2 linked regions of the Homo sapiens genome follow. The protein of the gene in region 1 purifies or fractionates together with the protein of each later gene. This does not show direct contact. Each region holds a gene or a part of one and is shown in the gene's direction. Other genes may lie near its edges.

Region 1 (3,500 bases):
ACTATTTTATCAAGTTTTCTTTTTTTCTTTGTGTAAAATATTTTATTACCATTGTATCTAGTCCATGGAGGCCCTTTTCCAGTCTGTGGTCTTAGTCTGCCATTTGGTTTTCCTATTTCTTTCCTAATTTTTTCTCGTTGTATATTTATATAGATCCTGTTTAGATTTTTTGTATACTTATCTTTAAATAGGCAAGTTTTTCAGGGACCAGCTGTTTTGCAGGATGTTTGTTGGAGGAGCTACCAAAACTCTGTTCTGGGCTAGCTACAGTTGTTCCCTTGATTTAGGGTTCTGGGTGAGTCCGTTTACCCTTAGTCTCTAGCCAGCCAATCGAGATAGGCAAGGCGTCTCTTAGCATCTCCACAATGCAAAGGATGTCTTCTCTACTACCACAGACACCACCTCTGTGAGGCAAATGTAGCTTGCGTGATTTCTCATTTAGCCTCAACTTCAGGTCCAAGGAAGTTCCTGCCTTCCAAAAACAAGGAATTAATTTGGTGCTGGAGTGTGTCCTTTACCCACAGGAAGTACATATTTTTGCAGATCTTTCTGAGATCACCAGCTTCCCTGTCCTCTCCCTGTAGCATCCTTTCTTCTTTTTCTTCTGTGAAGCAAAGGAGTCCCTGCCTGAGCTCCCTGCTTTTGACAGCTTTTTCACCTGTTTGGGGGTTTGGAATTTTGGATATCCTGTAGTTATAACAAAAATGGAGTTTGCATTTTTATTTCTTCTTTTTGCATTTGGAACATATTTTGAACAGCATTTGAAAATGCTGACTTTATGATGCAGTGTTAAATAAGAAGTTTTAACTGACTTTTTCTGTTAACCAGCCACTAGTCTCCACGACATCATGTGTTAGGCCTTTTACTATACCTTCTCCAGAAAGCCCCCACCACCACACTGTTGTCTATCTTCGAAGTCCCTAAAGCCCAAGGAATATGCTACTTAGATATATGGAAAGCCTTTCATTCATTTAGCATGCCTACTCTGAGCGTTGTTCTAGGCCTTGGAGATAAAGCATGGAAGAATTAATACAAGATATTGACACACCAAAGACAAGTCTTAAATGATTTCATGTGGACTAGGGGTCAGGGATGAATAGAGTGGAAGACATAGTTTGGGATTCTGAGGAAGTATGATATAAAGGGTAGAACATGAGCTCCGGAATCAGCACCATTCTGCTGCTAATATACATGACATTGGGATCATTTTATTGCCTTTTCCTCATATATAAAATGTATCAATTTCTTCATATATAAAGTGAAGTCAGGCCAGGCGTGGTGGCTCACGCCTGTAATCTCAGCACTTTGGGAGGCCAAGGCAGGGGGATCATCTGAGGTCAGGAGTTCCAGACCAGCCTGGCCAACATGAGGAAACCCCGACTCTACTAAAAATATAAAAATTAGCTGGGCATGGTGGCGGGTGCCTGTAATCCCAGCTACTCAGGAGGCTGAGTTGGGAGAATCGCTTGAACCCAGGAGGCGGAGGTTGCAGTGAGCCAAGTTCACACCACTGTACTCCAGCCTGGGTGACAGAGTGAGACTCAGCCTCAAATAATAATAGTAATAATAATAATAAAGTGAAGATTATATTACCTACCTTAGATGAATGTTGTAAAATTAAGGTAAGTTACATAAAGTACTTGGTTCATAATAGATACTCAACAAGTACTACTTTCTACCCACACAGGGATTGGCTAAATAAAAGGAATAAATACTGAAAGTGCAGGTATAGAGGACTATTTCTCTCCTTTTTTGTTAAATTGTGGTAAAATATGTAACATATAGTTTCCTGTCTTCACCATTTTTAAGCTTACAGTTCTGTGGCATTAAGTATATCCACATTGTTGTGCAGTCGCCACCACCATCCGTCTCCAGAGCTCTTCATCTTGCAAAACAGCACCTCTGTACACATTAAACAATAGCCACCACTGTCCTCTTCCCCCTGCCTCATGGCAGCCCCCGTTCCAGTTTCTGTCTCTGAATTTGACTACTCTGGGTACCTCACAGGAGTGGAATCACACAGTCCTCATCCTTTTGTGTGTGGGTTGTTTCACTTATAGTATCTTCAAGGTTCATCCGTGTTACATTGTGTCTCAGAATTCCCTTCCCTTTTACAGCATCTCAATTCAGATGAAAAAAAAAAAAAGAATTCTTTTCCTTTTTAAGGCTGAATAATATTCTGTTGTATTTCTATGGCACATTTTGTTGATCCAGTCGTCTGTTCATGGACACTTGGGCTGCTTCCACCTTTTGGCTGTTGTGAATAATACTGCTATGAACATGGGTGTACACATTCTCTTCAAGTCTTTACTTTCAGTTCTTTTGAGTGTATATCCAAAAGTGGAATTGCTGGGCCATATGGTAATTCTGTTTTTAATCTTTTTGAGGAACCACCATACTGTTTTCAGAGGCCTATTTCTTGATGGGGAAGTATAAACAGTGGAATTCCCCCAGGGAATAATTTTAAAACCAGTCTTGTTTAACATTTTGTAAATTATCTAAATATGAGACTTTTACCATTAAATCTTCATTTGCATATAGCTAATGAATAATTCATATTGTATAAAATGTAAGAACACCTCGTGAGAGTGTGTGTGTGCGTGTGTGTAGACAGAACAGTGGTTAATAAAGCTCAATGTGGGCACACACGCAAGGGAATACATTTGATTTATTATACTCTGTCCTCAAGATCAGAAGTTCCCTGCACTTACTGAGGGCAAAATACAGGGAGCCAATGCCAGAGAACTTCAGATGTCAGAAGTGCACAGTGCCCAGATATGCAGACACATCTTTCTTCTTGACTCTGCATTGCTGACAGAGTAAACTGGTGGTTGACTCTAGACTCTGGACCAGTGGTTCTCAGCTGGGGTGAATTTGCCCCCTGGAACACATATGACAATTCTGGAGACATTTTTGATTGTCAAGCTGGAGGAGTAGAGACCAGGGATGCTAGAGAACAGGCCACAGTGACAGGACAGCCCCACAGCAGAGGATTATCTGGTCCCAGATGTCACTAGTACCTAGGCTGAGAAGCCCTGCTCCAGACCCAAATTACCTTCTCAGCCTTGTCTTAGCCTCTCTCCTGCATAAAGAAAGTTGCCATCCCAGCCAGACCCAGGAGCTCCCCATACCTGCCCATACACCAGCTGAATTGCTCCTTCCAACATCTTCTACCTGAAATTCTTTCCCCTACCTCTCTAATGTCAGAGCCCAGCTTCCATCCTCCCACTGTCTCTGTGAAGCTCTCTGATCTCTCTAGCCACTGTACCCTTTCTTCTCTGACTTCCCCAGGACTATCCCAGTCATTTGGCACTTAGTTAACAATAGAAGGTTGTACTTGCTGTCTTCCCAACTTGACCGAAAGCACCTTGAGGGCCATTTGATGTGATTTGGTTTGAAATATGGAGTACCATTCCTTATGAACCACAGTGGGCATCTCTGCTTTGACCCACCCAGGGCTTTCTGTGACAGCTTTCCTACCACAAAGGGGTACAGTAGTT
Region 2 (3,500 bases), on another chromosome or scaffold:
TTGTACCCACTTTATATTTCTCAAAACTACTGAGGAAAAGGATTCCAGCTCATCTTAGGATGCTATCATCAGGGAGTATGTACTATCTATGCATGGCAGCTATCTAATACAGTAGGCAGTAGCCCTGTGTAGCTGTAACTATTGGTTTATGGCTTAGCATTTGATCTATCCTGGATAATGTTCAATAAACATTTGATTAGAATGTGTATTCTGCTGTTGTTGAGTGGAGTGTTCTATAGATATCTGTTTTTTAGTGTTGTTCAAATCTTCTACTTTGCTGATCTTATGCCTACTTGTTCTATTCATTATTGAAAACAGGGTATTGAAGTCTCTTTAATTCTGTTAGTGTTTGCTTCATCTATTTAGGAGATTGGATGTTTGGTGCATGTATGTTTATAATTTTTTTAATCTTCCTTTTGTCATTGTAAAATGTTCCTCTTTATCTCTAGTAACATTTTTTTGTTTTAATGTCTGTTTTGCCTGTTATAAATACTACTATTCTAGCTTTTTTATGGTTGCTGTTTCCATTATATATCTTTTTCCATCCTTTTACTTTCAGCCTGTTTATATTTTTGCATCTATTGTATGTCTCCATAGACAGCATATAGTTGGCTCTTGTCTTTTTATCCAGTTTGCCAATGTGTGCCTTTAATTGGAATGTTTAATCCATTCACACTTATTGTTGTTATTAATATAGTTGGATTTTAAGCTGTCATTTTACTTGCTTTTATATGTTTCATGCCTTTTTTGTTCCTTATTTCTCCTTTATTGCTTTTTCTTAGATTAAGTGAATATGTTCTAGTGAACATTTTAATTCTTTTCATGGTTTTTTTACTATATATTTTTGAAAATATTGTCTTATACATGGAGATTATACTTGTAGTTTCATTCCTAGACCATTTAGTAAATTTCTGTTAGTCTGTAGTGTACCAGAAATCATTATTGCATTTCTTCTATGCATAGTTGGTATAACGTAGGAGGTAACTAAATATAGATTGATTATAAATGAAGATAGAGAAAAGAAATTTGATTCCTTTTTGTCTTCTGTATGACAGGCATGCTATCTGCCAGATATGAAGTCAATATTATTAATATTATGGTTAACTTGATTTTAATAATTTAAAAAAATACTTAGTGCTTTTCTATTATAAGTGCAAGAGATTGGCTAAGTACCATGGAGAGTAGTAAGATCTACAAGAAGCAGATCTGTCATTTTAATGAGTTTTACCATCATTTCTGCTACATTATAGACTAAGAGAAATTCTTTGGATGGCCTGGGAATGAACTCTCTCTGTATAATATGTGCATGTCTTCCCAGACAGGATACAGCATATCATAGGTAAAAACAATAGCGTTTGAATCAGATAGAACTGGCTTAATGTCTGAGCGTCTGCCACATAGTATATGTACCAATTCTTTATGAGTTTTAGGCTCCAGATTTGTAGGGTTTATAATATCTAATTTATAAATTTGCTGTTTGTGTCGAGAGAAAGAACTATTGTATATAAAACCCTCAGCACAGTGCCTAACACCACATGGGATGTGATTAAAAATTCCAAATAAGAAATAAGTACTCAAAAAGATGTAAAGATACAATATCTGTGTAAAATTGGAATGTCTGTTTCCAAAATACACCAGAAAGTAAAAAATATTGAATACTTGTTCATCACAGGTATTTAATATTTGTTGAATGACTGTTGAATTAATTTGTTACATTCTTGGTGATAGTAATTAAGTGTGTAGTATCGTTTTTAATGTCTCCCTCACCCCCCTGCAGTGGTTTCATGCTCAGTGTTCATAGGTAGATTCTTTGGGGGCTTTGGTGGCCTACCCTTTGTGAGGCACTCATTTTTCCTAAAGTGTTATATACTATATGTTTATTTTTTTTAATTAAGAATACATATTTCTTTTTCTGTCTATAGTAAAAAACAAAGTTTTTACTGACACCTGTAATTCTGGTGGTATAGCACAGAGTTCCTTCCAGCCTCCTTCCTTTTTATATTTGAAACTGCCTATTCAACATTAAGAAATGTGGCTCTGGCCACGCACCATTGTTCATGCCTGTAATCCTAGCACTTTGGGAGGCCAAGGTGGATGGATTGCTTGAGTCCAGGAGTTCGAGACCATCCTGGGCAACATGGTGAAACCTTGTCTCTACAAAAAAAAAAAAAGAAACAAACAAACAAACAAAAAAACAAGAAACAGGGCTCCTATTTCCACAATCTGTTTACATTTTTGCTGAGTCTCAGAATGCAGAGAAACTATTGCTTCAGAATTGCTAGCACTGTACCTCTGTGGGGTATACAGTAGCATGGGGCCTAATAATTAGAGTTAAATATTTAATTAGAGTTAAATATTAGTTTAGAGTTGTTTTTGTCTTTAATCTTTTTTTTAATGTATGGTAAATCAAAATTGCTTCAACTATTTATATCTTTGAACTCGTTGTGTTGGTATGTAAGAAAGCTATTGATTTTTTTTGAGTGATAAATTTTATATTCTGCTTTTTTACTGAATTCTTCTATTGTTTGAGTTAATTTTCTCATTCATCCTCCTTGGGTTTTTTTTTGCATGACAAAGAGTCTTTACTTTTAAATGATTATCAGTACACCAAGTAGTAACATGTAACAAGTTCTTGAATTCTGTCCTCTTTGATTAAGTAACTAAAACTGGCCCAAACAATTATACTAGTGTTCATTGTTCTAACCACTAGCAGGAATGGACTACCAGATATTGCAGAAAAAGGCCAAGACTTCACCCCTCTTCTGCCTAAACTGCTTCCAGATGGTTCTCTTCTCCTGGGTCTCCTCTACTTTAATGCTGCAGCTGCCTTGGGATCGCAGGGCAGCAGCCTCCTTGGCCTTGAACTCTTTCTCCCTCTGCAGGCAATATTGTTCAATTTCACCTTGAACTGCTGCTTTGGCCTGCTTCTCCCTCCGGTTCTTTCACTGCAGGTCTCAGACACCCTTTTCAGCAACCTGCAGCAGCTACTGGATCCCCTGAGACTGACTGGCCATGACAGCACCAACTCTGAGGCAGAAGCAAGCAGCCTAAATCTCTCTCTCTTTTTTTTTTTAGAGAATGAATCATATCTGCAAATAGAGATGTTTTACTTCCTCTTTTTCAGTTCCTAGAACTCTAATTTCTCTTGCCTAATTATATTGTTTAGTGCCATCACTACAGTTGTGTTCAATAGTAGTGGAGATGGTGGGCATTCTTGCCTTGTTTCAGTCTAAAGGAAATGCTTACATTGTGTTTGCATTAAGAAAGATGCTGGCCCTGAAGATTTTATCTTTGAAATATAGTACTTTTGCAAGGTACTTCAGGATTACTTGATATGGGTCAATTGTTTTGCCTTGGTACTCAGTGAGTCCTTTCAAAATGTAGATTCAGAATTTTTATTATCTCTGGCAAAGTGTTTTTTTTTAAGATTATAATTTTAAATATTAATTCTGTTATTTTTTTTCTTTTTCAGGGATTCCTATTTTATGCACATTGGATCT

Evidence for each region. The genes of interacting proteins can lie anywhere in the genome.
Region 2: the proteins of AP3S2 (region 1) and AP3B1 purify together in Homo sapiens (affinity purification with western blotting; one study listed by BioGRID). This does not show direct contact.

The regions. Positions count from the first base shown.
Region 1 is NC_000015.10:89,838,495-89,841,994, reverse strand, and holds part of AP3S2 (AP-3 complex subunit sigma-2), read left to right. Parts: intron 1-2,650; exon of another isoform or gene 2,651-3,500. UniProt on the Homo sapiens protein: Part of the AP-3 complex, an adaptor-related complex which is not clathrin-associated. The complex is associated with the Golgi region as well as more peripheral structures.
Region 2 is NC_000005.10:78,221,699-78,225,198, reverse strand, and holds part of AP3B1 (AP-3 complex subunit beta-1), read left to right. Parts: intron 1-3,500. UniProt on the Homo sapiens protein: Subunit of non-clathrin- and clathrin-associated adaptor protein complex 3 (AP-3) that plays a role in protein sorting in the late-Golgi/trans-Golgi network (TGN) and/or endosomes.